Linked DNA regions of Homo sapiens: all the other regions are linked to region 3. Evidence: fine-mapped expression QTL. A gene starts in region 3. Each other region holds a variant in brackets. All regions are shown on one strand. Distances are from middle to middle. Region 1 has its middle 30 kb from the start of MIR6731. Region 2 has its middle 8.0 kb from the start of MIR4425. Region 3 holds the start of RUNX3 (RUNX family transcription factor 3). Region 4 overlaps LOC105376876 (a long non-coding RNA gene). Region 5 has its middle 6.4 kb from the start of MIR4425.

What was found. PIP is the estimated chance that this variant, and not a neighbour inherited with it, causes the effect.
Region 1: its variant is the best candidate, but not a certain one, in a credible set for the expression of RUNX3 in whole blood (TOPMed, PIP 0.79).
Region 2: its variant is the best candidate, but not a certain one, in a credible set for the expression of RUNX3 in whole blood (TOPMed, PIP 0.53).
Region 4: its variant is the best candidate, but not a certain one, in a credible set for the expression of RUNX3 in whole blood (TOPMed, PIP 0.79).
Region 5: its variant is the best candidate, but not a certain one, in a credible set for the expression of RUNX3 in whole blood (INTERVAL, PIP 0.51).

What each region holds. Positions count from the first base shown.
Region 1 is chr1:24,886,301-24,892,215 of GRCh38, reverse strand. No RefSeq gene overlaps it. Among named protein-coding and RNA genes, the nearest start is that of MIR6731, 30 kb to the left of the region's middle. The variant C/T (reference allele first, on the strand shown) is at 2,718.
Region 2 is chr1:25,028,588-25,034,502 of GRCh38, reverse strand. No RefSeq gene overlaps it. Among named protein-coding and RNA genes, the nearest start is that of MIR4425, 8.0 kb to the right of the region's middle. RefSeq lists enhancers at 1-41, 722-781, 1,782-1,831, 2,372-2,581, 4,870-4,939 and 2 more and a silencer at 3,338-3,387. The variant C/T (reference allele first, on the strand shown) is at 2,783.
Region 3 is chr1:24,927,616-24,933,530 of GRCh38, reverse strand. RUNX3 (RUNX family transcription factor 3) reads left to right here and starts at 3,255. Exons shown (of 5, transcript NM_004350.3): 1 at 3,255-3,944; 2 at 5,801-5,915. The coding sequence starts at 3,663. RUNX3-AS1 (RUNX3 antisense RNA 1) reads right to left here and starts at 3,074. Exons shown (of 4, transcript NR_183341.1): 1 at 1,505-3,074. RefSeq lists silencers at 1,017-1,236, 2,907-3,376, 3,577-4,016 and enhancers at 1,552-2,141, 3,581-4,314, 4,487-4,666, 4,315-5,049.
Region 4 is chr1:24,863,789-24,869,703 of GRCh38, reverse strand. It overlaps LOC105376876 (a long non-coding RNA gene), which reads right to left. Exons shown (of 3, transcript XR_947082.3): 3 at 3,966-4,473. Among named protein-coding and RNA genes, the nearest start is that of MIR6731, 53 kb to the left of the region's middle. RefSeq lists a silencer at 315-515 and an enhancer at 2,210-3,409. The variant C/A (reference allele first, on the strand shown) is at 3,358.
Region 5 is chr1:25,014,161-25,020,075 of GRCh38, reverse strand. No RefSeq gene overlaps it. Among named protein-coding and RNA genes, the nearest start is that of MIR4425, 6.4 kb to the left of the region's middle. RefSeq lists enhancers at 1-626, 584-743, 784-853, 944-1,053. The variant A/G (reference allele first, on the strand shown) is at 3,023.

The sequences.
Region 1 (5,915 bases), 41 kb after region 3:
ATTGAGGTTTGGGAACCTCTGCTTAGATTTCAGAGGATGTAACTGGATGTCTAGGCAGAAGTTTGCTGCAGGGGTGAGGCCCTCATGGAGAACCTCTGCTAGGGCAGTGCAGAAAAGAAATGTGGGGTTGAAGCCCCCACATAGAGTCCCCACTGGGGTGCTGCCTAGTGGAGCTGTGAGAAAGGGCCATCATCCTCCAGACCTCAGAATGGTAGACCCACCAACAGGTTGCACTGTGCATCTGGAAAAGCCATAGATACTCAACGCCAGCCTGTGAAATTAGCCAGGAGGGAGGCTCTACCCCATGAAGCCACAGGGGCAGAGCTGCCCAAGACCATGGGAACCCACCTCTTGCATCAGTGTGACCTGGATGTGAGACATGGAGTCAAAGGAGATCATTTTGGAACTTTAATATTTGACTGCCCCACTGGATTTTGGACTTGCATGGGGCCTGTAGTCCCTTTGTTTTGGCCAATTTCTCCCATTTGGAACAGCTGTATTTACCCAATCCCTGTACCCCCATTTTATCCAGGAAGTAACTAACTTGCTTTTGATTTTACAGGTGCATAGGCAGAAGGGATTTACCTTGTTTCAGATGAGACTTTGGACTGTGAACTTTTGAGTTCATGCTGAAATGAGTTAAGACTTTGAGGGACTGTTGGAATGGCATGATTGATTTTGAAATGTGATGACATAAGATTTGGGAGGGGCTAGGGAGGGAATGATATGTTTTGGCTGTATCCTCACCCAAATCTCATCTTGAATTGTAGCTCCCATAATTCCCATACGTTGTGGGAGGGACCCAGTGGGAGCTAATTGAATCATGGAGGTGGTTTCCCTCATACTGTTCTTGTGATATTGAATAAATCTCACGAGATTTTATAAGGAGTTTCCCCTTTAACTTAGCTCTCATCCTCTCTTGCCTGCCACCATGTAAGACATTCCTTGCTCTTCTACCATGATTGTGAGGCCTCCCCTGCCATGGGAACTGTGAGTCAATTAAACCTCTTTCCTTTATAAATTACCCAGTCTCGAGTATGCCTTTATTAGCAGCGTGAGAATAGACTAATACACCCAAGGAATCTCTTAGGTCAGGTTTCCCTAGAAGCAGATCAAGAGGTGGGGATTTTTGTGGGGAGGACTTTCAGGGGAAGTGGAAAGAGGGAAGCAGGACACAGCAGAGAAAGAAAGTTAATCTATGACATCCCTGGGCTGGAGGCCAGCCTCATTCTGGTCTCATGAGGGCCTTTGGAGCATTAATTACAGCACTGACTTGTCCCCTCCAGATAGCAGACTTTTTGTGTCCTCAGGTAAGTCAGTTGGCAAGACTTGCCACACCCCCAAAGGAGCATAACCTCCACGGTGAGATGTCTACTGTTTGGCAGAGAGCAATTCTCCAGAGAAGGGGGCAGATGTGAGCAGTTTGCAGCCAATGCTCACACAATGTTAACATGACGGACCTGGGTGGTAGCGTGGGGTGTCAAGATGATCAAGGACACTGCAGTGGATGCTGTGGGTGAGCCTCTCAACAGACCCCCTTCACTGGACAGTTGCTCCCATGCTCCTGCTGCTCTAAACCTAAGGAGGAAAAATGGCAAGAACCCAAGATGCTTTAATAAAATATATGGCTGGGCACAGTGGCTTACGCTTGTAATCCCAGCACTTTGGGAGGCTGAGGTGGGTGGATCACCTGAGGTGAGGCGTTCGAGGCCAGCCTGGTCAACATGGTGAAACCCTGTCTCTACTAAAAATACAAAAATTAGCCATGCATGGTGGCGGGCACCTGTCATCCCAGCTACTTGGGAGGCTGAGGCAGGAGAATGGTTTGAACCCAGGAGTTGGAGGTTTCAGTGAGCCAAGATCGTGCCACTGCACTCCAGCCTGGGTGACAGAGTGAGACTCCATCTCAAAACAAAACAAAACAAAAATGTATGCACACCAGAGAGTGGAAGATAAAGCCTCTGAAAATTCAGGGTCCCCCGTATTGATGAAGATCTTAAGGAACCTGTGATCTGAGGCATGCCAAGCCATCCCCTCTCAGAAAAAAAGACAAGTTGCTGCATTTGCACCTCTACCATACAGTAGGATGAAAAAGCACCCCCCCACCCCACCACGAAGATATGTCCATGTCCTAATTTCCAGAACCTATGGGGATATTACCTTATTTGGAAAACAGATCTTTGCAGATGTAATTCAGTTAAGGATCTCAAGATGGGGAGGTAATCTTGGATGATGCAGGCAGGTCCTAAATGTAATGGCAAATGTCCTTATAAGAGACATACAGAACAGAGGCACATAGGGAAGAGGAGGAGGCCATGTGACCACAGACGCAGATTGGAGTGATGCAGCCACAAGCCAAGGAATGTCTGGAGCCAAGAGAAGCAGGAAGAGGCAATACACGGGCCTCGTGTATTGCCCGTGTCAGCCCTGCCAACATCTTGGTTTCAGACTTCTGATCTCCCCAGCTGCGAGAAACTGTCCTTCTGTTGTTTTATGCCCACCTTCTTTGTTCTCCTTGAATTTCAAAGCAGCATATACCACACTTGGGAATGCTACTCTGACCTATTTATTAGGCAATTCAGAAAGCTTTCAGTTCTGAGACAAAGCAAAAGAGAACGCTGCATAGGTCCAAGCTGCAGTGTGAGCTGCTCTGCTAGCCATGAGACTGAGAAGATTTATGGTGCTAGATAAAGAACTTGGGTGGAGCCTTTAACAAA[C/T]CCCAGTAGAAGAGTCCCAGTACAGACCTCTAAAATTTTCTGCAGTGGAGAACTACTCTCCTTTTGAAAAACAATTGCTGGCATGCTACTGAACCCTACAGAGACTCAGAGCCTGACCATGAGACATCAAGCAACTATGCTGGCTGAGTTTCCCTCTGTGAGCTGGCTATGACCAGATCCACCAAATCCTAATGTGAGGCAGGCACAGCAGTAACCCACTGTACAATGGAAATGCTACAATGCACTATTCACAATAGCAAAGACATGAAATCAATCCAAATACCCATCAATGATAGACTGGATAAAGAAAATGTGGTACACATACACCATGGAATACTATACAACCATAAAAAGGAACGATATTATGTCCTTTGCAGGGACATGGATGGAACTGGGAGCCATTATTCTCAGCAAACTAATGCAGGAACAGAAAACCAAACACCACGTGTTTTCACTCATAAGTGGGAGCTGAACAATGAGAACACAAGGACACGGTGGGGGAACAACACACACTGGGGCCTTTCAGGAGGTGCGTGGGGAGGGAGAGCATCAGGATAAATAGCTAATGCATGCTGGGCTTAATGCTTAGATGATGGGTTGATAGGTGCAGCAAGCCACCATGGCACACATTTACCTACGTAACAAACCTGCACATTCTGCACATGTACCCTGGAACTTAAAATAAAATTAAAAAATAAATAAATAAATAAATAAATAAATAAATAAATAAGTATTTGTCATAATATAAAAAAAAGAGAAATGCTACAGTGATATTTGGGATTGAGACTGGCAGGTCCAGCAGGTACAAGTGGGTTACATGAAGAAGTGTGCCAGACCCCACGCCACCCACTTATGTTGTGTCTCTACCCACCCCTCAACACACACCTGTAGCCTCATGGCGATTTCCTGAAGCCGACTGTCAGAGGGGTAAGGGGCTCAGGTCTGGTTCATAGGTTGGCACACAGAACTATGAATAGATTTGGTCATCTCCATCTCATGGAGGAAGAAGTGTGACATGTCCACAGTGACTCCTGAGCTAGTTGATCAGCAGCCTGAAAGGACAAGATTAGAATATCTTGGATGGTGTGGTTGGGGAAGGCCCGCCCATAGAGGGGACAATTGAGCACAATGCGTGGCAAACACCCCAGTGTTCACAGAGGGCCTTCCCATTTACAGAGCACCATCGCCCATGAATCATGAACCCCTGGATCCGGGGAGGTGGATCCCTTTGTGGCTCCCTGGGCTGGGTTCCTGCATATCAGTCCTGGCTGCAGCAGGCTCCAGGTATGGGGATCTGTTTCAGCTTGGGCTGCCCAGAAGCAGACTTTGAGAAGAGAATTCACATGAAAGTGATTTCTTAAGGAAGTACTCCCAGGACAAGCCAGTGTCAGAGTAGGGGGAGCTAGACATGGAGGGTGAGGCCAGTTGAAACTGACCTGTGGGGGGCTCCGGAGTATAAGTTACACCTCAGAGTTTGTGCCCAACTGCAGGCCAGGGATCTGGGCTTCTATGCTTCTGCATGTGCACCTGTCAGTCATTCCTTTTTTTTTTTTTTTTTTTTTTTTTTGAGATGGAGTTTCACTCTTGTTGCCCAAGCTTGAGTGCAATGGCGTGATCTCGGTTCATTGCAACCTCCGCCTCCCAGGTTGAAGTGATTCTCCTGCCTCAGCCTCCCAAGTAGCTGGGTTACAGTCATGCGCCACCATGCCCAACTAATTTTTTTCTATTTTTAGTAGAGACAAGGTTTCACCATGTTGGTTAGGCTGGTCTTGAACTCCTAACCTCAGGTGGTCCACCTGCCTTGGCCTCCCAAAGTGCTGGAATTACAGGTGTGAGCCACCGTGCCCTGCCCACCTGTCAGTCATCACCATGGTAAGACAGCTCCAGGGGTCACGAATATCCAGGCACTCTGGCTCTGTGTGTGTGTGTATATGTGTGTGTGTGTGCATGTGTGCATGTGTGTGTGCATGTGCATGTGCGTGTGTGTGTGTGTGTGTCTGAATTTTGTGCACACAAAGCCCCTCTAATAGCTCAAGGGGAGCCCTCGAGAGAGAGTGGCAGGCACAGGCTGTTAGAAGCAAAGACACAGAGGAGCCAAGGAGGAGCTCACAGAAATGGAGTCATCTCCAGCCTCCTACCTAGTGATGCCCTTGGCATTGCCTGGTGCACTGGGCCATACATTATCCTGCTCAAAATTCATGTACTTCTTAGAACCTGAGAATGTGACCTTTGGAAATAGGGTAACTGCAGATGAAATTAGCTAAGACGAGGCCATACTGATGCAGGGTAGGCCCTTAATCCAATATGACAATAAGATGAGGAGAAGAAGACACAGAGACAGAGGGAAAGGGAGAACGCCATGTGAAGATGAAGGCAGAGACTGGAGTGATGCATCTACAAGTCAAGGGGCTCCAAGGATTGCCAGCAACCACCAGGAGCCAGGAGAGCGCCTGGAACAGATTCTTCCTCAGAGCCTCCCGTAGGAACCAGCCCTGCCAACACCTTGATTTTGGACTTCCAGCCTCCAGAACTGTGCAAGGAACAATGCCTGTTGTTCTGAGCCTCCCAGTTTGTGGCTCTGTGTCACAGCAGCTCTAGGAAATAAACACACCTGGGAGCATCTGGGTTATAGGTAAGAGGCAGCATCTGAGGCCCCTCAGCACTGATGGGAGACGGACAGGCTCACACCATCATCATCTGGCCAGAAGGACTTGGAAAGATGCTTATGTTCCACAAGAGAAAGGAGAAAAAGGAAACCACACTTCCACAACCTTCCAGGAGGTAAGGAGCTGTAGCCCCACCCAGAGGCAACAAACCTGGATCCCAGCTATGGACAGGAACACCACTAGTTCAGGCTGGAAAATGTATCCAAATACTGCTGCAGTTGTTTTTGGAACTACATCTGGCTAAATGGGAGAGGTCCTGGGCCTGGCAGCTGGACCAATGCCCAGTTACAGAAAGAGGAGGGAGTGGCTGGCTACAAGGTAAGTGGGCAAGGTTGCGGGAGAGGGAAGGAGTCACTCTCCTTTGCTCCAGAGACCCCTTGTCCATGAATGCATGTTTAGGAACAGCAGAGGAGGGGGAGCCTGGCTGGGGTCTTGCCAAGTTTACCCTCTGGGTGGCAGACCAGAGGCCATATCCCCTCAGCCCTGGCATCTTTTGCTGAATAAAGTATATCCACAGGCCAGAGGAAACCAC
Region 2 (5,915 bases), 100 kb before region 3:
ACTCCCCATTTTCACTGTCCCTCTGAGGCGGCGGGTGGTGGGTGATCACCCCATTTAACAGACGAGGAACAGGTCCAGACGGGGAAGCAACTTGGCTGAGGCTTCAGGGCGAGGAAGTGGCAAAGCGGGGCTGAGAACCCAGGTCTGTGGACCCCCAGCCACAACATCAGGGGCCCCGGCCGGACCCAGGCTTCTAAGAATGCAGTGCTGGTCCCAGAACCTGAGAACAGGGACTTTCAGGCTGGCTGGTTCCCAAGTGTGAGTGCAGGAGGGCCTGGCTCGGCAGGGGGTGGGAAGGGGCCAGCCACTTCCTGCTGGGGCTGGTGCGGTCCCCATGCGGTGGCCATCAGAAGCTGGCCACTTCCTGGTCTGGGCTGCCTTCCCCTTTCTGAGCCTGGGAGGGAACGAAGGAGCGGAGTGAGGTGCCCTTGCGTGCTGCGGCCTGGACGACGTCTGGCCTCTTTTCATTTCCCCTGCATACCGCTTCGCTCTCCACAGCCACCAACGGTCGGAAGCTTCTGGGAGCTGACTGCCAGGTCCCCTGTCCACAGCCGAACCCCTCCTGCCTACGGGCTTCCTCCTCCCTGGGGCTCAAGGGACTCCTAGCCCTGCTGGGGGTCTGCCCACCAAGGGCCTAGAATGAGGCATTGTCGTTTGTACCGAGGCTGAGAGGTGGCCATCGGTCTGAGGTTACACGCACAGCCAATAAGTGGCAGAGCTGTAATTGGAGCTCAGATGTGTCTGACTCCAAAATCCACATCCTTTGCATATTTAACAACCCCCTGTCCCCTCAGAGGAAGTCTGACCAGAGGAGGCTTGGACGAGGGGACATGGAATGACCCTGCTAGACACTGACCTCTGAGGCCAGTGATGGGACCAGCTTCTCCTTCCTGTTAGATCCTGGAACCCAGCCTGGTGCATGCCCCAGAGCAGGTGCTCGCGACACTGGCAGAAACACAAAAGGCATCCTGACTGTTCCTGTCCAGCTCCTGACACTCATGAGCACCTGCTGCATACCAGGCCTGGGCGTGGAGACACAGGACCAAGGGAGAAGACCTTGCCCCAAGATCGGTGGCCATCTTCCGTACCAGGCTTAGTGTGGACAATGTTTAAATGCACCTCAAATTCCACATGCAAGAGAGATCCTTTAAGTCCTTCCAGCAGGAAAGCCAGACCTGGGTTGCACAGGGACCCCCTCTGGTGCAACAAGGAGGTAGCAGGGTGTGAGGATGAAGAACGTGGAGCCAGGCAGGCCTGGGTTCAGATCCCAGCTAGACGAGCCTAGGGTGGCCTTGGGGAAGTGACTTCATGTACCTCAGTTTCCTCACCTGTAGAATGGGAATCAAACCATAGAAAGTGCCTTACAAGACCTCCCTTCAACCCACTCTGGATTAACAAACACTCTCCCTGTCCTTTGAAAGAGAGGCTAGTAGATGCCACAGCTTCCTGAATGTTCCAGGCAGGCCGGCCGCTGCTATTCCCACCTAGGCGGCTCCTCTGACTCAGTGAGGCTTCTTCCCAGACCTGCAGCTGCTGGCTGTAGTGGCCGAACCAGGGAGACCAGAATGTGAATGGGAAAGAGAGTCGTGTCACAGAAAACCAAGAAAGGACTTTGCAAAGGCCCAGTTATAGGCGAGTTGTCAACGGAAGAAAAAAAAAAAGTGCTGCCAAATGAGGTGTGGGCAAGACAGCCATAAAAGACTGGGGAAGACAATAGTTAAAATCCGTCACAAACTTTCATTGAATTAGGTGTAGACTAAAACTGGAGGGAGGGGGTGATTATTAAAAATCCAGAGGGAGTCTAGGGAGTCTGTGCTCAGATGGCTTCACAAGCATCTCTAAGGTCCCACTCCGCTTTAAAGGACTCCTAATGAGAGCCATAAACGCTGCTGCACAGGTTGGTTTTATGCAAGAAAAACAAGGTAGGACACCAGCTGGGGGCCTCAGTCTCAAAGACAGCCTTGGCCCTGCATCAGAAGATCATCTCATAAAAGTACACGCGCACGTGTTACGTTCAATAAAATGCCTACTTTATGTATCATATGATTTCCTGCATTAATTTTTTTTTCTATTAACCAACCACTGGTTTTGCTCTCATTGGATAAGAGGCTTCTGCTATTAATAGCACTTACCTCACTGGGCGGATGTGAAGGCTGAACGAGGTACCGATGCAAAGTGTCTGGCGCGATGCCTGGCACACAGTAAATGTTCAGCAAATATTAGCTGTAATAATCATCTCCAAATCCAGAACTCTCACTTGGCAGATGAGAAAACTGAGTCTCAGCGGCGTGGAGTGAGCGGGCTGCAGACCAAGGCCTAGAATCTGCAGCCCGTGTGAGAATCGCCCACATCTGAAACCCAAGCCTGCGTCTCCCCAGGGCCTCTCTCGTTGCATATTTTGGAGGGGGTGTCACTTCCCTGAGGAACGTCAGGTGGAGGTCACGGGAGCAGTGGTGGGTCCCTCAGCATCCTTCAGGATCATTGCACCCCAGCCTCCCACTGCCCATCCTACTCGGTGGAGGTCTGAGTTTTCCCTCTGGTTCAAGCTTAGGGTCAACCCTAAGCTTGTCTCAGTGACTCTCTCTGTGTTCACCGATCTTGTGTATTTTTATCTCAGAGGCTTTCATTCGTGTCTTTAATTATTTGTTTCAATGTCTGTCTCTCTTCTGAACGACTGGGAGTCCCCCGGGGAGCAGGCCTGATTCATCTGGAAACCCTGAACCCAGCCCAGTGCCTGGCTCCAAGCAGGGGCTTCACGCGTGTTTTTTGAACAAGTGAGCAA[C/T]GGAACAAATGTGAACAAGTGGGGGTCCCCAGTGTCTCATCGTCTCTGCACCAGACTTTCTGGCCAAGGTTGTAGCAGAGAGAGGTTCACACTTTGTCTGACTTTGGAACCAGCCAAAAATGCCTCCAGGATTCATGGATTCCCTGCCATGGTACAGGCCCAGCAGCTGAGGCCCTAGCCTAGTGCCCAGACCCCTCCCGCTCTTTGTTTTCCTCCTTTATCCCTCCAGCCTCCATCCCTCCAGCCTCCATCCTTGTATTGCTCCAGCCTCCATCTTTCCATCTCTCCAGCCTCTATCCTTCCAGCCTCCATCCTTTCATCCCTCCAGCCTCCATTCCTCCCATCCCGCCATCCTTCTATCCCTCCAGCCTCCACCCTCCAGCCCCTATCCTTACAGCGTCCATCCCTCCCATCCCTCCATCTTTTCAGCCTCCATCCCTCTAGTCTCCATCCCTCCAGCCTCCATCCTTCCATCTCTCCAGCCTCCATTCCTCCAGCCTCCATCCCTCCATCCCTCCAGCCTCCATCCCTTCATCCTCCATCCCTCCAGTCTCCATCTCTCCAGCCTCCATCCTTCCATCCCTCCATCTCTCCAGTCTCCATCCTCCTCTTCCTAGGGAGCCTGAGAGTGTCTGGCAGGGCAGAACAGACCCTGGGAAACCCAGCCCTGGAGTGAGGCTCCCCTCCAAACCGTGAATGGGGTGTGGTTTGGGGCTTTGTCTCCTCTGAGTCACCTCCATGGTGTGGTGGGGTTGACTCAGACAGAGAGTGAGAAGGAGAACTTGGTTGGTCCTCCTGGTTTCCACAGGTCCTGAGACTGGCCAGGGTGGGGCTGGGTGGGGTGGGAGGACAGGGAGAGGCCCACACTGAGGAAGGTGTTAGAACCACACACTGGGAGGACTGACATGGATCTCAGGTCCCCGGGAGCATCTAAACCCCACACTTTCTGCTCTGGAACAGTGAGGGCTGGAAGCAGCAAGGTGTGGCGGAGGGAGGAGTCTGACTCTGTTCTTACCTCCTCCCCTCCCTAAATTTCAGACTCTTCACCTTACACCAAGGGGGTTAGTTCCAAATCCCCTCTAGCCAACTTCCAGCCTGAGTGCCAAGGCCAGGCTTTACCTAATGACCATGGGGACTGGAAGAGAAGAAAAACAGCCAGACGCAGTGGCTCATGCCTGTAATCCCAGCACTTTGGGAGGCTGAGGCGGGTGGATCACTTGAGGCCAGGAGTTCAAGATCAGCCTGGCCAACATGGCAAAACCCTCTCTCTAGTAAAAATACAAAAAAGTTAGCCAGGTGTGGTGGCATGCACCTGTAATCTCAGCTACTCAGGAAGCTGAGGCAGGAGAATCACTTGAACCCAGGAGGCGGAGGCTGCAGTGAGCTGAGATCATTCCATTGCACTCCAGCCTGGGTGACAGAGCAAGACTCTGTCTCAGGAAAAAAAAAAAAATAAAAGAAGAAGAAGAAGAATGACCAAGAGCTACCCTTATTTGAGCACTTACTGCATGCTAAGGACTGGCTGATTGTTCCATATGCATGACCTCATTTAGTCCTCATGATAGCCTTCCAGAAACCCACTTTGCAGATGGGGAAACTGAGGCTCAGTAGAACAATGACTTGCCGCAGGGCACACTCTAGGCTAGATGGTGAGCTGGGCTTCCCAGGTCTCTTGACCCCCAAATCCTCATCCTTGACTGCTTGCTCCCAAAGTTACTGTTTCCCCTCATCACCTGCACCCCAAGATGCTCAAAGTGGTATCTTCTGATTCTAAGAGGGTCAACCAGGGAGGCCAGCCAGGGCCACTGGTCTCTGACCTCTCTTGCTTGTTGACAGCCCCCGGGGGCTGTACTGCTGACTGCAGCCTCCCCAGACCATCTCTCCCCAAAACCCTGTCAGACAGCTCTGGAGGAGGCATTTGGCTTTCCTTTTACGGTTTTTCTTTTCTTTTAACTTCTCTGCAACAAATATAGAAAATACAGATAAGCACAGGAAAGAGCAAGAAAATCACATTCCTTATCATCTTCATTAGAATAGTGACATTTGGGTGCATTTCATTCCAGTATTTTTCTTTTATGCACTTGCATTGCCAGTTTTGTTTTTATGAAGACAGGATTGTTTGTCAACAGACATTTCCTGAGTACCCACTGCGGGTGGGGAGCTGTGCTCCGTCCATCAGCGACAGCTCCGCCTCTCCCCTCGCAACAGGTTCTTCCCTGAGAAGGGCTCCCGCTGCTGGGCTGGGCAAGATGGGCACCAGGAGAATGGGGCTTTGCAGCCTCGCAATTCAGAGCCAAGCTTTGGAGAAGGTAGATCTGGGCTGCTGGCTGTGTGGCCGCGGGGGTGCCGCTTGGCATCCTTTTCAAGAGTGGAGTGGCTTCCTTTTCTGTGGAGTGAGAGTCACCACTTGTCACACAACAGGTTTTGAAAATTAAATGGCCAAGTGAATGGGAAGGGTTTGGCGCCAAGTCGGCGCTCGGTGAGTGTTTCGTGGGCTCTCTGTGGGTCTCAGGGGACCTCTGTGTTGAGGGCATTTTACTTCCTGGTGCTCTCAGGGAGCAATGCTGGACCCAGGACTTGGGAGACACCTCATGACAGTTCAGTGATTCAAATCTTGCCTCTTGGCTTGAGGCAGGGCCTGGAAAACCTCTCACCGCCCTGCGGTGTTTCCAGAAAACACAGGCTCTGGCGCAGTCATCTTCCTTCCCGCCGGTTCCTAATATGGGTGTGATTTGCAACCGAAAAACCAAAGCCAACTTCACAGCTGAGACCACGAGCTCATCTCTCTTTGGGTTCTGTCCCAGCTCCCCGAGCCCTGGGGCTGATGAGGGTGGCGGAGGAGAGTCAGGGAGAGAAGGGGACCTGCAGAGGACGGAGGTGGGGTGCGGACTCGGATGAGGACTCAGGCGAGCTGCAGGGCCCAGAGGCACTCGGCCCCCCAGAGGTGCTCAGTACATGTTTGCCGAGTGAACACGAGTGAATGAGGAAGCCAGCTGAGGCGTGCGCACTGGGAGAATGGGAGGAAAGAAGCCTTCATCTTTTCTGCCCATATTTCAAACCCCAGTGCCCGCCGCAGAGCCTAGGGGCACCCAAAGGGCCCAGCAGAGAGGAGAGGAACAAACTCACCTTGCTG
Region 3 (5,915 bases):
GGAGTCCTAGTAAGCTTTGAATATGAGAACTGGACATTTCACAGATGGAAGTGTGAGGCCCAGAGAGAGGAGGGGTGGGTCAAAGGCCCCCAGCAAGGATTGAGAGGTCTTATTTTTTCATGACAGTGATGGCTCCCGGAGGCTGGAGCACCCTCCATGTGCCAGGCCTGTGCTAAGCACTTTACACACAATTCTATGAAGGGCCACTATGAGTGCCCCACTTTACAAATGAAAGAAATGAGGCTCAGAGAGGTTTAGGCAACTTTCCCTAGAGCGCTGTGGGTGAGGGAAAAAGACACGCTCAGGCAGAGGGACTGTGGACCCCAGCTCCTTCCATAGCCCATGGACCTCTTAGGCGGTTTCCCAGGGCACACCTGCCCCTTGTCTGGTATACCTGGGGATCCCTGCCCAGGCGCCACAGAGTCCACATGAATCACACCTGCCCTGGGAAGGCGGCACCCTCACTGCCAAGAACGCACTTAGAGAGCACTCCTAAATGCCAGAGGGAGACGAATCCCCTTCCTGGGGCAAAGGAGCTGGCTCTATTTGCCCGGGGATGGGTTCTGGGTTTACCCAGCTCTAAGTCAAGGTAGGGTAGGGGAGTGTCCTGACCTTCTGCTTCCTAGCCCTGCTGTGGACAACTTAGGGTGCTCTTAGGTGGGGGCCACTGGGGAGAAACTGGCCTGTTTGTCCATCGATCTGATGGAAGAGGGAGAAAAGACGACGGTCCATGCCAACTGGGGAAGGGCGAGGGTGTCTGCATGCCCCAGGTGGGGGAGTCGGAGTTCTCCCTCCCATCAAACAGACGACAATTTTTGTCGGTCCGGGATGGGGAGGAAGCAGGTGGAAATTGGGAACAAGCTAGCCTGTTCTGTGGGTCTTCCCCGGGTGCCTGAAAACGCGAAGACAGAAGGCGTCCATCTTATCAGAGGTGAGGAAGGCGGCCTTGGTTTGACACAAAGCCATCGGTTTGTCTGAGACCTGGCCGCATGGATGGCAAGGAAAGGGCAGCTCCTCGGGGGCGGTCGCCGCGCCTGCACCCGGGGCCGCAGCTGGCGCGCATCTGTAGCCCGGCCGGGCCCGCACCTCCGCGGCTGGCAGGGCGCGGGCGCCAACTAGCGGCGGCTCCCGCCACTGTGCCTGCCAGGCGGCCCCGCGACCTTGGTCTGGGGACCCAAGGGCCTGCACCCGCCCCCCCTCCCCCCGCCGCCCTGGTCCCTTGGATCTGGTGCCCACGGGGAGCCAGCGCCCTACGGAGAGCCGGAGCCGTGCCGGGCCCTGCGCCAGGTGCCAGGGCCCACAAGAGTCCCTCATTCTCTGGAAACTTGTCTGTGAACCCATCGTAAGCGGAGAGGGAGAAATCAGGCGGAGGAACAAGCAAAGGGCACGGTGCAAACCGAAACCATTCGACAAATGGAATTTACCACCACCTGAAACAGCGGGTCATGGTCCCGCAACCTGCTCGAGGGCAGCACGTGTTGCCCGCCCCCGGCCAGGGCCCTACCTGGCCACGACGCGCTGCGCCTTCTCGGAGACGTTCCCGGAGGTGGGAGCGCCCAGGCTGGATCACTCGCTTTCCTCTAGTTCTGCTGCTCGTGCCAGCGCGTCCGAGGGCGCGCGGGCCTGGGTCCGCAATCGACAACTGCCAGGCGCAGGCTCTCTTAAAAGGTTCAGTAAGGGACCTTTGCCGTCCTTCCTTTCGACACGGCCTGAGGGCGTGCTGTGAGGTCCCGAGGTGGGTAGGGGCCAGCTCTCCCGGTGGTCGGGGTGAGTCCAGAGTCCTTCGCCCCTGGAGCGCACGCGGGGCTTGATTTCGTTTGGCAACGACGAAATGGCGCGCGCTGAGCAGGGGTCAGATCCATGATGAGATCTTGCGGCCACCGTCGGATCCTAAGCTTCTTTGCTTCCGAGGCTTGGAATTCATTGTTTTGCACCTGTCGAGAGCCGGAGGCAACGAAAATCTAGCCCCGTCTCCAAAGCGGCGGGGAGGCTCAGCACGCGTTCGTTCCCCAGAGTCTAGGGAGGTGTCTGGGGCGATAATTCGGAATGATTGTGGCTTGATCTTTCCCGTTGCCCTCCCAACTGTAGCCGGCCCCTAGGTCTGCTCGACAGACTTAGGAGGCGGGAGAGGAAGGGGTGATTTGCAGTGAAGCCCAGGAGAGGTTGGGCCACGCGGCTGGGAGTGGGAGCGGGGACCCGGAGCCGGGCGGGCAGGCAGTGCCTTGGCGAAGCTGTCCGCGGTCCCTGCGGCGCAGCCGGAGCGCACGGGCCCAAGAAGAAGTGGGGTTGGACCCGCAGAGGCCACTTTCCACCCGCATGGAGAAAGAAAATTCTCTCCTCTGAAAGCGAGGGCCCTTAGCTTTGCAGCCACTGCTGTTTTTCTTTTGCCACCGACGCGCGTACCGTTTCACGATGCAGGACCGTGGTTACATGCGTAAAGGAAAAAAAGAAAAACGCATTTTGCAGGCCTCGTCGTGTTTTTCAAAGAGCCACAGGCCGCCACAACGAAGAACGACGCCGCGAGGCCTGCAAGATCCTGAAACTTGTTTTGAGGGGAGAGCAGAGAGGAAAGGGGTTGTTGGCCCCAGGCTACTTAGGGTCCCTAGGAGACTCCCTTCCGCCTGTCCCCGGTTTGGCACAGGGGCCACCGAGGCTGGGACCAAAGCCGCGCAGGGCTGGGAGCAGCAAAGGCCGCCGGCCGGGCGTGGACGACGCGCAAAATCCCGTGTGGGGTGGAGGCTCTTGGGTCAGAATAATGTGCGGGACGAGGGAGGTGAGTAACCTCTTTGGGGCGGCTCCCAGTGCGGCGTCACCGGCCCTGAGACCCCGCGGCCCCCAGCCCGGGGTTGCAGAAGTCACAGGCCCGAAGCAGCAAGAGCTGGGGAAGCCCGGCCGCGGCCAGCGGGGAGGAGGAGCGAAGGGGTTGCGCCCCAGCGTCAGGGAGCTACGACCCGAGAGAGGGCGGCAAGGGCGCCTTCCGTGGGACCCGGACGTTCTAAGCAAATTTCTAGCATTTGCCCCGGGCTCCCAGAGCTCTCGGGGGCCCTGGGCTGTGGCACTGGGGCCTCCTCCGCGGGGTGGCGCCTTCCGCCCCTCCCCGTTGGGCGGCCTCCGGCAGGCCCCGTTCCTCCCCGCGAACGCCACCGAGGTGCCCGCGATGGGGGCTCCGCCGATTGGCTGTGCGACGCGTCGCTCCGCCAGCCCCGCCCCGCGGGCCCCGGGGGTACTAACCCCGCGCGGGCGGCCGCGGCCCCGCCACTTGATTCTGGAGGATTTGTTCTGGGGCTGCGGCCGCGGAGTCGGGGCGGCCGCGGGCGAGCTTCGGGGCGGGAGGCGGCGGCAGCGGCACAGCCCCGCGCGGGCCCCGCCGCGGCCCAGGCAGCCGGGACAGCCACGAGGGGCGGCCGCACGCGGGGCCGCGCGCCGAGGATGCGGGACTAGCCGGGCAGGCTGCGGGCGGCCGTCGGGCCAGCGAGGCCTCGCAGCGGGCGGGCCCTGGCGAGTAGTGGCCGGGCGCCGCCCCCTGCGCCCTGAGGCCCGGGCCCCGCCGCTTCTGCTTTCCCGCTTCTCGCGGCAGCGGCGGCCGAGGAGGCGCCCGCGCCGGCCGCCCCCGGGGGAAGCCGCGCCGTCTCCGCCTGCCCGGCGCCCTGACGGCCGCTGTTATGCGTATTCCCGTAGACCCAAGCACCAGCCGCCGCTTCACACCTCCCTCCCCGGCCTTCCCCTGCGGCGGCGGCGGCGGCAAGATGGGCGAGAACAGCGGCGCGCTGAGCGCGCAGGCGGCCGTGGGGCCCGGAGGGCGCGCCCGGCCCGAGGTGCGCTCGATGGTGGACGTGCTGGCGGACCACGCAGGCGAGCTCGTGCGCACCGACAGCCCCAACTTCCTCTGCTCCGTGCTGCCCTCGCACTGGCGCTGCAACAAGACGCTGCCCGTCGCCTTCAAGGTGAGTGCGGGACCCGGGGCGGGAGGGCGCCGGCCCTGGGGCTCCGGGCGTCTGAGCTGCGGGAGCCAGAGCCTCGGGAGCAGTGGGGATGGGAGGTGCCCGAGACGCCGCGGCGACACCCGGGCACCCGGTTCAGTCTGGCTGCGCGCTCGGCTCCGGGACCTCGGCGTTCCGTTTTGGATGCGCCCTGCAGGAATGACTTTTAACGGGGTTGCCCCGCTCCACCTGGGTTTTGGGGCGCCTTGCGTAGAGACGTTGGTGCGGAAATGGGCGGATGGGGTTTTGCGCCCCCCTAACCCGGATCGCTCAGATACAGCCCTGCGGGTAACGGAGAAGAGGATCCCGGGACAGGGGCAAGGACACCGCGGGTGGGGTGCGAACGGTGAAAGGGCCTACCCTCCGCCTCCAGCACCCCTCCTCCCGCGCCGCTTCGCAAAAGCTTCCTGCTCACACCCTCGGGCTTCCGAAATTTTACCGGACGGCGCTAGGCCGGGATCGGGGCACTGCTCTCCAGACGTTTGCTCGGGGATATTATGCGTCCCGAATGGCGAGTTGAGATTGGGGGACCCCTAACCCTGGCAGCCCCCAGCCATTTAGAGGACCTTTTTCTTTATGCCAGGGAGTAGGCGACTGTTTCATTTTCATTTTTTTAAGGGGGCAGCGAGATGAAACGAAAACGCCTCGGTTTTCCCCTAAACCTCTCACAGCTGCCGTGAGAAAAGGGCAGGGCAGGAAGGGCCGGCGGCTGGGGGTGGTGCTGCCCGAGGTGGCTGGAAGCTGAGGCCGTCCCTGCTCCCATTAAGACGACTCTAAATGGGAAAAAAAGGAAGAGTGGCTCTTTGAGGTCTCCCGGGTGACATCTTAAAATACCAGTGGGGGAAATCTCGCCGGGAGGGGCGGGAGGCCCGTGTGACTTTAATCGTCAGATCGGAGGTTTTACTGTCACTTGGAGCTTAAAAGGAGTCTTTGAAATTAAAAGAAGACAGGATGTTGACAGGAAATCTGGTCTTCTTAATCAGATCCCAAACATTTTCTCCTTGAAATTTTTACCATATGGATCCCCAGTCCCTGCACGCGGCGGCCACGTTTAAATAGTTGTGACTCTGTTTAAAGTCTGATTCTTTTTCAAAAGGCATCCGCCTCTCCGTGCTCCTGGGGGTGGGGGATTTGGGGGAGATGGTGTTTAGGGGGACATCGCCACCCCCATCCTGCAATTCCCGGCAGGTGCATCCTTCCATTATCAAAAGCCCCACTCTCACTTTAAAGGGGTTTTCTGGTGGCCTTTTTCAAAACACCAGTGAGTTTTGCATTCTGCATTTTCTCTGCATAACGAATTTAGGCTCTGCAGAGGCCAATAAACTGGGCCTGGTCCACATTTCAGGGCCAAATTTCATGCCCTAAACAGCTCTTGCATAAATTGAGTGGGGGTAGCAGCCCTGTTGTTATTATTGTTGTTACTCTTTCTCATTTGGAGACTTCGTTGCTAGGAGCATGTTGATTCCTCTTTCGCTGCAGCCGAAGACAACAGGGGAACTGCACCCCACATCATAGTGACTGAGCTGATTCACAGCTCTGGCTTAGATTTCATTGAAAGGATGATTTCTTGGGACACAGTTTATGTAAGCAGTTGATCTAGGATTTTGGTGTGGAAGCTCGAGATTCCATCTTCTTGTTTTCGTGATATTTGGGGGAAGGTCTTTATTGTTTTTAAGCCTCTTCTCCACCCTGCATTGGAGAAATACTCAGTGTGCCTGGGACCTGGGGGAGCTGCCCAGCCCAGCCCCTCCCCTCCTTTCCCTGGTCACCCTCTTCCTTTCTAAGCTGTCCCCCTGCATCCCCCCGCCCCGTGTCTTCAGGTGGTGGCATTGGGGGACGTGCCGGATGGTACGGTGGTGACTGTGATGGCAGGCAATGACGAGAACTACTCCGCTGAGCTGCGCAATGCCTCGGCCGTCATGAAGAACCAGGTGG
Region 4 (5,915 bases), 64 kb after region 3:
TTTGGGAGGCCGAAGCAGGAGGATCACTTGAGGTCAGGAGTTTAAGACCAACCTAGCCAACACAGCAAAACCCCGTCTCTACTAAAAATACAAAAATTAGCCAGGTGTAGTGGCGTGCACCTGTAGTCCCAGATGCTCAGGAGGTTGAGGCACGAGAATTACTTGAACCTGAGAGGCAGAGGTTGCAGCGAGCAGAGATTGTACCACTGCACTCCAGCCTCAGTGACAGATCGAGACTCCGTCTCAAAAAACAAAAAACAACAACAACAAACCTCCCATATCCCCTTTACCTAGGCTCACAGATTGTCAACATTTTGCTCCAGGGGTTCTCTCTGAGTATCTGCATAAATTTTGTTTGCTGAGCCATATAGAAGTACCTACACATGTCAGGACCATTCCCCGTGGGCCTCCTGAGAACAAGGAGCTGCTCTTACATAACCAGGAACAATAACCACGTTCAGGAGAGTTCACATTGACACAATACGGCTCCCACCATCCCAACACTCTCCTTTATGTCATTTTGCCATGTGCATGTTTTTTTGTTTTGTTTTGTTTTGTTTTGTTTGAGACTGAGTCTTGCTCTGTCTCCCAGGCTGGAGTACAATGGTGCAATCTCAGCTCACTGCAACCTCCACCTCCTGGGCTCAAGTGATTCTCCTGCCTCAGTCTCCCTATGCCCACCACCGCGCCCGGCTAATTTTTTTGAATTTTTAGTAGAGATGGGGTTTCACCATCTTGGCCAGGCTGGTCTCGAAATCCTGACCTCATGATCCACCCATCTCGGCCTCCCAAAGTCCTGGGATTACAGGCGTGAGCCACCACGCCCAGCCGCCATGTGCATGTTTTTAATATGCATCATCAGTTTTGCGCTGGGTTCTCCTTCTTCCTGCTTCCACCCACCTACGTTTCTCGGGTCCTGCCTGTTCCTGGAGCTTGCAGTGTGCCTTGCCTCTGACTGCTGCAGGTCCACCGCGTTTTCCCGCTGGGGACAAGGCTGCAATGAGCCTACCTGTGCCCTAGAGCAGCGCTTCTCAGAGTTCACCCCGCATCTGATCTCCTGGGGCTCTGGTGGGAATGCAGAGCTGGCTCAGGACTGCAGTGGGGCCTGACCCACCACAGGAAATGTGGACACAGACCATGCTTTGAGCTGTGAAGCCCCTGCGCCGGGACTTGTGTATGATTTTCTTTGGTGGGAAGATTGAGCTCAAGAACTCAGATGCTGTTTCTTGGAGCTTGAGAACTTAACGTCACCAAGTAGGGTCAGTCCAAGCTCGACAATGGCTGTCCTGTGTGTCCGTGCTCCCACGAAGGTCCAGGCCCTTTGCTGCCTCCCTCGCCCCACCCAGACTCCCCTTCCTTCTTTCTGCACCACAGCCCAGGCTGGTGATGGAAACAGCAGCTTCCCATGGTGGACAGGGCTCCCTTCTGTTCTCTCAGCCACGAGCAGCACCCGGAGGGCTGGTGTGATCAGCCTTCCAGGCTTGTCCCAGACACTTCTGTGGGTGAATATTTCTGGAACTGAGTATGAGTTATTACGTGGTCACAGACCTCGGTCTGCCTGCCTTTAGCTCACTTCTGTTTACAGCCCAGGCAACAGAGGCACAGAGAGATGGAGCGGCTTGCCCAAGGCTACACGGCCAGCCAGACAGAAGGACTAGAGCTCAACCACCAGGCAATGGTAAGGAGGAACCCCACTCTCCAGGGAGGAGGTGAGAATGCCTCTCACCAACTGCACTGGGGAGAAAATGACATTCTAGAAAGACCCATCATGATCAGTGGATGGACATTGGACATTTTGAGGTTTTGAGGGTGTGGGAAAGCCAGGTCAACCAGTCCAAGTCCCTGCCTCTGCTAGGGGTGCTCTCAAAATTCTGGAAGTGTGTCCCTGAGCCTCTTGTGGAACCAACACCAGGTCCCTGGTGGTATGATCTCAGCCCCTCTCTGGGCGTGCGGACCTCCTCCCACATCTGTGCAGGTCAGGGCCATTCCTGCACCGCTGCTTCCCTCTGCTCTGCCCACATGCCCCATTCCTGCCCAGGGAGAAGGGGCTCAGAGCAGGTGCCTCACCCTCCCACCTACCTCCTACCTCCTACCACCTACCTCCATGGTTCTGCCTGACAGCTCCTCCCTCTTTCTCACCCACCCAGACCTGGAAGCCTCTCTCCGCTGTCCTAAGCAAAGGACACGTGTCCACAAAGACATTCCCACCTCTAGAGACCACCTCTAGTGCACAGGCACTGCCCGGTGGGCCCCTTGCCCATTCTCCCTGCCCTAGCCTTCTGTTCCTCACCCGCTGTAGCTCCTCCCTTCCTTGGGGCTATCCCTTGACACTTCCCATAAACAGCTTTCCATCACTGACCTGCACCACACCGCTCAGCCTCTGTGCAGACATCACAAAGTCAGAGAGGCCCCTCCCTTGCTCAGTAGCCCAGCCCCGAGGCCGCTCCGTCACGCTGTCCGGCGTGGGTTCTCCACGGCACTCAACGCCGTCTGAACTGTGTCAGGCTTTCTCGGTTGATTATCTGGCTCCAACCACTTGAAAGTAACTCCAGGGACCAGGACCTCATCTGCTGTGTTTGCTGCTGTCTCCCCAGATCCCAGAGAAGGGCTTGGCATGAACGTGGGTGCATGATAAATGCTCACTTCAGGAATGAATAAAGCGCACCTTATAGAGCACATGGTGTTTTCATGGCCGTAACACACTCAGTCCACACAAGCCTGCAAGGTAGGTGGTTACTCGCCCCTTTTGCATATGAGCACATTGAGGCTCGGAGGGGTGAAGGGATTTGGCAGAAGTTACACAACCAGAAAGTGGCAGAGCTGGGACCACAAGCCCCAGTCTTTCTGACTCTGAACCTCTTGCTCTCCCAGGGGAAGGCATGAACCCTGCCCCGGTGCCCTCGGCACTGGGCAACATCTCCCCTTGCATGAGGAGTCTGCTCTGAGTCACCTGTCCTGTCCTGCCCGTTGTTGCTGTGATCAGTGTCATTTGGGAACCCATAATTCCCCACTGGAGTCAGTCTTGCTTGGAGGTCAGAACCTGCTTCATCCCGTTCTGGCTGTGTGAGCCTGGGCAAGCCACTTCGCCTGCCTGGGTTTCAGTTTCCTTGTCTGTAAAATGAGCACAGTAGCCATCCCCACAGCCTGCTACAGCATCAGAGCCCAGTAAACGGGAACTGTTATTCGTGTCACTTTATGCACATGCGGATATTAAAATATTTTCACTACCAAAGTGGTTGCTCCATCCATTCTAGTTACAAAAAATTATAATGACACACAAAGTGAATGAGCTCCTGGCACCCACTGCTGGTTTGGTGAGTAATTTCCAAGACTGTTTTTTGCCTCATCGAAAGAAAT[C/A]GAGGAGGGGATTAAAATTATAAGCCTCGCCATCCTGCGCTGCTGAGTCCTAACTTGATTCTTCCACTCAGCTCTTTGTCTCAGAGACGTCCCTATGCTTTATCTTTCATTTTTATTTATTTTTTTTTTCTTTCCTTCCTTCCTTCCTTTCTTATTTTCTTTTGTAGAGACAGAGTCTCACTCTGTGGCCCAGGCCGGAGTGCAGTGGTGCGATCGTGGTTCACTGCAGCCTGGACCTCCTGGGCTCAAGCCATCCTCCCCACTCAGCCACCCAAGTATCTGGGACTACAGTGTGTGCCACCATGCTCCGCTGGTTTTTTGTTTGTTTGTTTGTTTGTTTGTTGAGACAGAGTCTCGCTTTGTCACCCAGGCTGGAGTGCAGTGGTACTACAGGTGTGCACCACTACACCTGGCTAATTTTTCTATTTTTAGGAGAGATGGGGTTTCATCATGTTGGCTAGGCTGGGCTTGAACTCCTGGCCTCAAGTGATCCGCCTGCCTTGGCCTCCCAAAGTACTGGGATTACAGGTGAGCCACCGCACCCAGCCCCAGCTGATTTTTTAAATAATTTTTTTTAGAGATGAGGTATTGCTATTTTGCCCATACTTGTCTCAAACTTCTGGTCTCCAGCAATCCTCCTGCCTTGGCTGGGATTCCAGGCATGGGCCACTCTGCCCGGCTGCTGTACCTTTTATGGAATATGCTCCCTCCTGCCTTCTGTTTTGACCTTCACAGGTCTGTGACATGAACTGGGCAGGCAGCATCCCCTTTTTGCGGATGGAAAAACTGAAGTTCCAAAAAGTAAATGACATCTGCCAAAGGTCACACAGGGAGGAAGCGGCTACATCCCAAATCCAGATCTTCCCACTCTGGATGGCTGAAGATGTGTTTTCCAGGATCCACTGCCCACTCGGAGACAGACTGCTCTGTACAGCTTCATTGTTTTCATTCATCCGTTCCTTCCTTCATTCATTCCACCTGTGCCGGAAGCCAGGCCTCCTGCTGCGATGAGTAAGATTCCAGTAGTGGCTGTGTACAATTGGCATTCACAAAGGCAGATGAGAAGTCTTCAGCTGCTCCCCACACCACGCAGGTCTCGTTCCTGTGGGGAGAGCACTGGGAGGAAAGGGGAGAAAGAATCTTCATTTCTTTTCTTTTCTTTTTTTTTTTTCTTGAGATGGAGATTGCTCTGTCGCCCAGGCTGGAGTGCAGTGGCACGATCTCGGCTCATTGCAACCTCCACCTCCCAGGTTCAAGTGATTCTCCTACTCTGCTTCCCAAGTAGCTGGGATTACAGGCATGAGCCACCATGCCCTCCTAATTTTTGTATTTTTAGTAGAGACAGGGTTTTGCCATGATGGCCAGGCTGGTCTCCAACTCTTGACCTCAGGTGATCTGCCTGTCTCAGCCTCCAAAGTGCTGGGATTACAGGCATGAGCCACTGCGCCCTGGCTGGGATCTTCATTTCTATGCTGCTTATAGTTTTAGAGACAAGCAAACATGATTTCTTTTGTTACTAAAAAGAAATAAAAAAAACAAAACCAGTGGGATCCCTAGACAGAGGTACACTCAGGGTAAAGCCAGGTGAGAAACTGGGTGTGGGCTGTGCCCTGGCCTTGCTGAACGGCTTTACTGGGCGGCCCAGGACACCTGAAATCTGAGACGCCAGCTCCTGGGCAAAGTCTCAGAACGTCAAAGGGTAAAAAAGGGAAGCGTGGAACTGTCAGCAGTGCTGAGGCCTCATTAAGAGAGCCCCCAAAACCCAAAGGTCATTTCCTCCTGCACAGTGGATGTGTTTATTTTACATATCTGGCCAAGCACAGGGGAAAAAGCCAGGCTATAGAGCCAAGGGGCCGAGAAAGAAAGGGGAGAAAAGAAAACAGAAAGTGAAGTGGTGTTTTATGAGCAGCTTTAAATCCCCCTCCCACAATGAATCATGAGGGCTGCTAACGAGGACGACTCCAGAAAGTCTAGGGGTGGGAGTCAGGGGAAACAGGGAAATCGGATCAACATGGATGAAAACTCATGTGTGCTTGCTCACACATACACACACATGCACGCACATGCACACACGCACACACATGCAGACACGCATACACACACATGCACACATGTATACACACATGCATGCACACGCACGCTCAAACATATGCACACACACGGAGCTGTTCTGAGGAGAACAGAGGTGGGGAAGAGAACACATAACCTACGAGGTTAAAAACGCCAGCTGGGCCGGGTGCGGTGGCTCACGCCTGTAATCTCAGCACTTTGGGAGGCCAAGGCAGGAGGATAACCTGAGGTCAGGATTTCGAGACCAGCTTGACCAACATGGCAAAACCCCATCTCTACTAAAAATACAAAACAATTAGCTGGGCGGGGTGGTGTGTGCCTCTAATCCCAGCTACTCAGGAAGCTGAGGCAAGAGAATCGCTTGAATTGAAGAGGCAGAGGTTGCAGTGAGCTGAGATTGCGCCACTGCACTCCAGCCTGGGTGACAGAGCGGGACTCTGCCTTGAAAAAAATAAATAAAATAACAACAATGACAACAACAATCCCAG
Region 5 (5,915 bases), 87 kb before region 3:
TGCAGGTAGGTATGTGTGTGCATGTGTGTGTGGGCATGTATGTGAATGTGTGTGTGCAGGCATGTATGTGTGCGTGTGCAGGCATGTATGTGTGTGTGCAGGTGTGTGTGCGCGCAGGTGTGTGTGCAGGCATGTGTGTGTCCGGGCATGTACGTGTGTGTCCAGGCATGTATGCGTGTGTGCAGGTGTGTGTGTGCACAGGCATGTAGGTGTGTGTGTGTGGGCATGTATGCATGTGTGCAGGGGTGTGTGTGTGTGCAGGCATGTGTATGTGTGCAGGTGTGTGTGTGTGCAGGCATGTATGTGCGGGAGTGTGTGTGCACGCATCCACATGCCTGCACACTCCTGCATGCGGGTCTGGCCCCGGTGTGGAAATGTGGGTCTGTGCATGGCCTGTCTGGGTCTGTGTTTTGCATATGGGTCTGGCATGTGGCCATTTGCATGTACTTCTCAGTCTGTGGGCCTATAGCTATGAGTGTGCTCACCCCACAGGTGTCCAGGCTTGGTCCGGAGTGAGGGTGTCTGATTATTGGTGTATGGCGGGTATGGGAGGTTGCCTCCTGCTCTCCTGACTCCCTCTCCCCAACCAGGACTCCAAGTTGTGAGCCCGCCTGGGAGTGCCAGACTATGTAAAACAGAGACCAGGCCCAGGGAAGCCCCTGCAGAGTGGCCCCTGGGGACTTCCAGGCCCCTCCTCCCTGGATGCCCCTCCCCTCAGTAAAGCCTTCTGCCCCTTCCAAAGTCTCATGACTCTCCACTCAGGGGCTTCCTCTCATATCTGGGGGCTGCACACAGTGCCCAGATTTCCCTGTCTGCCCTCTCTCCCACCACTGCTTTCAGCCCCTCTTGCAATGCCAGGCCTGGCGTCTCCCTCCTTCCTTTCTGAGGCCCCCGCTTCACTTCTGCACAGTTCCCCCAGCTGCTTTTGTGAGCTCCACTGTGCGCCAGCTCCTGGGCCCTGGCCCTTCGCCTGCATCATGGTTACCACTGAGAGAGCTTCTAGCTGAAGCCCCATTTTACCAATGAGGAAACTGAAGCTCAGAGAAGTTAAGGAACTTGTTCGAGGTCACACAGCAAGTGAGTGAGAATCAGACACAAACAAGACTCCAAATCCAGGTCTCTTTCTCATACAGCCACACCACCACCATGCTTCAAGTCATATCAATGACTGAGCCTCACTGGGAGGACCGTGTAAACCCCTTCCCCAGATGGACCCCAGGGGTTCAGGCACCTCCCATATCCATGGCTCATAGGATGAAGGCTCCTGGCTCTGGAAAAGGCCTCCTGGCCTCCTTGTGGAGGAACTCAGGCTCACCCTCTGCTCCTGGCGGAGCCATGTTTGGGCCTGGAAACCTCCAAGCCTACCCCAGTTGGGCCAACTTGAAGCCCCCAGGTCTTCTCAATGCCACATAGCACTTGCCTGGCGGGCCCCATGGAGAGGTCAGAATCCCCTTCGGCAGGGTCATTACTGTTTCCCCAGAACACGCTTCCATTTGGCAAGGACACGTGTGTTGGGGGAGCCATGTGGCTTTGATTTAAATTTCACCCTGGAAAAACGATGGTTTGGATTAAGGGAAGAAACAGTTGGTGAAATGTCATGGAAAGAAAGGAGGGGAGAACAGGGAACCTTTGTAGCAAGAGCAGCCCCCAAACTTTCAAACCCACATTCCAGAGGTTTCTGAAGGCCTGCCATGCAGACCTGACCTCCTACCCCAGCATGCTCCTGTCCTCTTCAGTAGCAGTGAGGTGTCCTCAGGAGATATCCCACTGGTCCTGCTCCCTCCTCTTACAGAAGCTGAAACAGAGGCTCAGGGAAGGGTGGCGACCTGCCTGGGGCTATGATGAGTTCTGGTGGCTCATGGAGCTCAAAGGAGGCTAGGGGTGGGGTGAGAAGAGGGACATGAGGCTCTGCTTTCCCCCACTCTGTTGGCACGGGGCTTGACCTCTCTAGGCCTCAGTGTCCCCAATGAGAAAGGGAAGAAAAAGGAATTACAGTATTTTCAATCTCCACTGGAGCTGAGCGAAGCCCAGGAGCCCTGTGGAAGGCCAGTGTGCTTGGCTCTGACTTCCTGACCCTTTGCTTATGCTGGGCTTGGCTCTGACAGCATCCCACGCGTGGCCTGCGCTGAGTTCCCAACACCCACAGTCCCCACCCTACAGACAGCAGACTGAGGCTCCTAGAGGCTAGGAAACTTACAAGGCTCCAAGAGGCTAGGAAACTTACGAGGCCCCTTGGCTAGGATGCGGCCCCAGGGGCTGTTCCTAACCACTGGACTGTGAGGTTGAGGCTGGGAAGAGAGTGGAGAGGATTTAGCCCAGGGCTGTGAGAGCTGGGAACAACCTGAAGCCCACACCCCCAGGAGTACCTCACAGTTTCTAGGTCACCAGCTCTGAGTCAGGAAGTCTCTCGATGTCATCCATTCATTTAGAGGCGGGAGCTGAGGTCAAGCAGAGGGATGTATCCAGGGCCACACAGTGGGGAGGTGCCACATCTCCAGATGGCCAGTGGGGGCTCTGTGGTGTGGATCCTGGAACCAATGCGGGATGACACTCTGACCCGTCAGGCTGGCCTCAGGGACTGTGCAGCCCTGCATCTTCATCTCTGTAGTGGCTGCTTGGGGTCGGAACTCCAGCTGTGGTTATGGGTCCATCTGAGACCAGGGTCAGGGCTCAGTGTGTGGCCGGGGCTATATGTCAGCAATGAGGGCTTGGTCTGTGACCAGGGTCAAGGCTGAGGAGTTTAATGCAGTGAATTGGCTGTAGAAGATAAAAATGGACTCGAAACCCAAAGGACAGAATCGCTGATGGGGGTTGTGCGTGCTGTGATGGGCCAGGGAAGAGCTGGGCACGGGGGCTCTGGATCTACAGAGGCAGGAGCTGGGGCACTTCGACCCCATGAAGTCCTCTTCACACCCACCTCTGCCTGGTGCAGCCCTCCCCCTTCATCCCTGTGCCCCCAGGACAACCCCATCTCTTTCCTCTGGGGAGAAGCCACTGGAAGTCATCCCCCTCCTGACTTGAC[A/G]CCTAAAGGGGCCAGAAGAACCATCTGCCCCCCAGTGCTGGGTTCCACCCGTGCTCAGAGCCCCATCTCACCCCACAGGATGGGAAGGGAACCATCTGGAGGACAGGAGAAAGGCCGCTCTGCACGGGTGGGGCGGGGATGCTGACGATGGACTGTCCAGAGCCAGGACTTAACCTGGACAGGTTGGTTCTTGAGTTCATGCTTTTAACCAACCACCATAGATTCCCAGAAGCACTGATAAAAGGTAGCCTTAGTATTATTTTAGCCAAGTCTGGCAGTGTGTGGCAAAATGCAGAGACTCAGGGGCCACCCTGAGAGAGTGCTGAGCAAGTCACAGCACACCCTGGGCCCTGGCACACAGTAGGGGTTTAACCAATGGGAGCCGGAGATGATCCGACAGAAGTGGCTTTCAGGCCCCAGGGCCCCCAGGTCAGGAGACACCACAGTGCGGAAATGAGAAGCCAGCTGGAGACCCCTTCCATGCCTGTCTGGCATGGGAACACAGCTGGCACTGCTTGATGGACTGTGCCTAAGCACCAGGGTCAGATAACCGGGCGCTGCTCTTCCTTTTTTTTTTTTTTTTTTTTTTTGAGATGGAGTCTTACTCTGTTGCCCAGGCTGGAGTGCAGTGGCATGGTCTTGGTTCACTGCAACCTCCGCCTCCTGGGTTCAAGCAATTCTCCCTTCTCAGCCTCCCCAGTAGCTAGAATTACAGGTGTGCGCCACCACGCGTGGCTAATTTTTGTATTTTTAGTAGAGACAGAGTTTCACCATGTTGGCCAGGGCGGTCTCGAACTCCTGACCTCAAGTGATCCACCCGCCTGGGCCTCCCAAAGTGCTGGGATTACGGGCGTGAGCCACTGTGCCCAGCCGGTGCTGTCCTTGTTGACTCTGTCTGCCCCAACCTTGCAACATCGCACTCTCTAAAAACAGACAAAAAATAACCGCAAACAACTGGGCAGGAAGGGACCCTAGAAATCATCACCCCTGATTTTACAGAGAAGAAAATTGAGGCTTAGGGAGAGGAAGGGACTTGGCCACAGTCGTACAGTGCTGTGGGAACAGTCCAGAACAGGGGACTTGCAAGCACACGGCTGCCCCAGGGACAGTGCCTGGTGATTATAGCCAGCATTTACACGGGCCTGTGGGAAGCCCCCTCAGGCTTCTTCTCATCTAATCCTCCCAGAGTCAGGTGACCATCAGGGTGGGCGCTTAGGGATGCACTCACCTAACACGCAAATGGAAGTGGTGAGGTCTGAGCCTGGCCACTGAGCACCAAGCCAAGTGCACCCGTGCTGTGCCACTGGCCTCATTCACACAGCCCAGGCTAGGGGGCCCTAGCATGTCTCAGCCTCCGCGCCAGCCCCCTCACCCCAGAGTCTTTGCAGAAGTGCAGCCTGTCCTCATTCCACCAGGAACACTGTTCTCTTCACCTCCTAGGCCATCTCATGAGAGGTAAGAGGAAGAAAAACCCACAGAGACAGAGGCAAAGCCATCCCACACCTGCCACCATTCCCCCTGGTGGATTTTCCCTGTGTCTCTGAATGCAGAGGCACCAGTTAACGTGGAGAAGAAATCAGGCTGGGGGCTCAGGAGCTGTGGCCTGGGGCGACCAGGGGCCAGGGCTGAAGGTGGGCAGCAGGTTGACCGACTAGATGCAATTAATTCATTCAGCACCGACCTTGAAAAGTGTCAGAGGGACTGCAAGAGCCAGGTCTAGTATCACGGACTAGAACACATCACTTGCCTTCTCTGGGCCTTTGTCATCCCACCTGTAAAATGAGAGGCTTGGTCCCATCAGTGATTCTCAGTCCCAGCTACACAGGGGATCTTTTATTTTTATTTTTGTTTTTATTTTATTTTATTAGTTTTATTTTTGTTTTATTTTTGAGATGGAGTCTCGCTCTGTCACCCAGGCTGGAGTGCAGTGGTGTGATCTCGGCTCACTGCAACCTCCGCCTCCTGGGTTCAAGCAATTCTCCTGACTCAGCCTCCTGACTGGATTACAGGCACAGGAGACCATCCCCAGCTAATTTTTGTATTTTTAATAGAGACATAGTTTCACCACGTTGGCCAGGCCGGTCTTGAATTCCTGGCCTCAAGTGATCTGCCTGCCTCGGCCTCCCAAAGGGCTGGGATTACAGGTGTGAGCCACGACGCCCAGCTTGGGGATCTTTTGAAACATATACTTAATTGATTCTGGGATGGACACCATTTAAACTCTTCCCAGTGATTCAACTGAACAGCTGGGGTTGAGGGTCCCTGGGCCAGACTCTGTGTCAGGGCCCCTCTGGCGCTGAAGTTTCGCCAGAGTATGGGGGTTACGCGTGTGGCTGCAGGTGTCAGACTGACTGAGGTTGGTGTCTGTGCGCCACTTGCTGCTGCGTGTGCCTGGGCAGGCCATGTCACTGCTCTGTGCCTCAGTTTCTCTGTCCGTGGTTAATCATAGCCTTCCCTGCACAGCATTTTTGGGAGGATTAATTGTCCTGGTTGTGTAAAGTTCTGGCACATGCAGAGGTAGGACTTGATAAGCCTGTGTCAAAATAGTAGGGATGACCGTTCCGGGAACAGGGCCTCAGCTGGTCACCTGCTCCTAGGAAAATGGGGAGGCTGCAGTGGGCTTTACCCCTGGACTTTCCTGGACTAGATGCTTTCCCACCAGCCTGAGCAGTGCTGACCTGTGGTGCAGCGGGGGCTGCAGGTCAGAGGCTGAGGCACCGCCTAGCGGAAACTGGGTGGGCTGGCTTGGGTACCTGCGGAGAGGGTTGGATGGACAGGAGCTCTGGGGCCATGATCTCTGAGCATGTCTGCTGCTGCCACTCCAAGATTTGGGGAGCCTAGAGTCCCTTTGGTCAGTTCTAGGTCTCTCCCTCTTGGCATCTGTGGCCTCTCC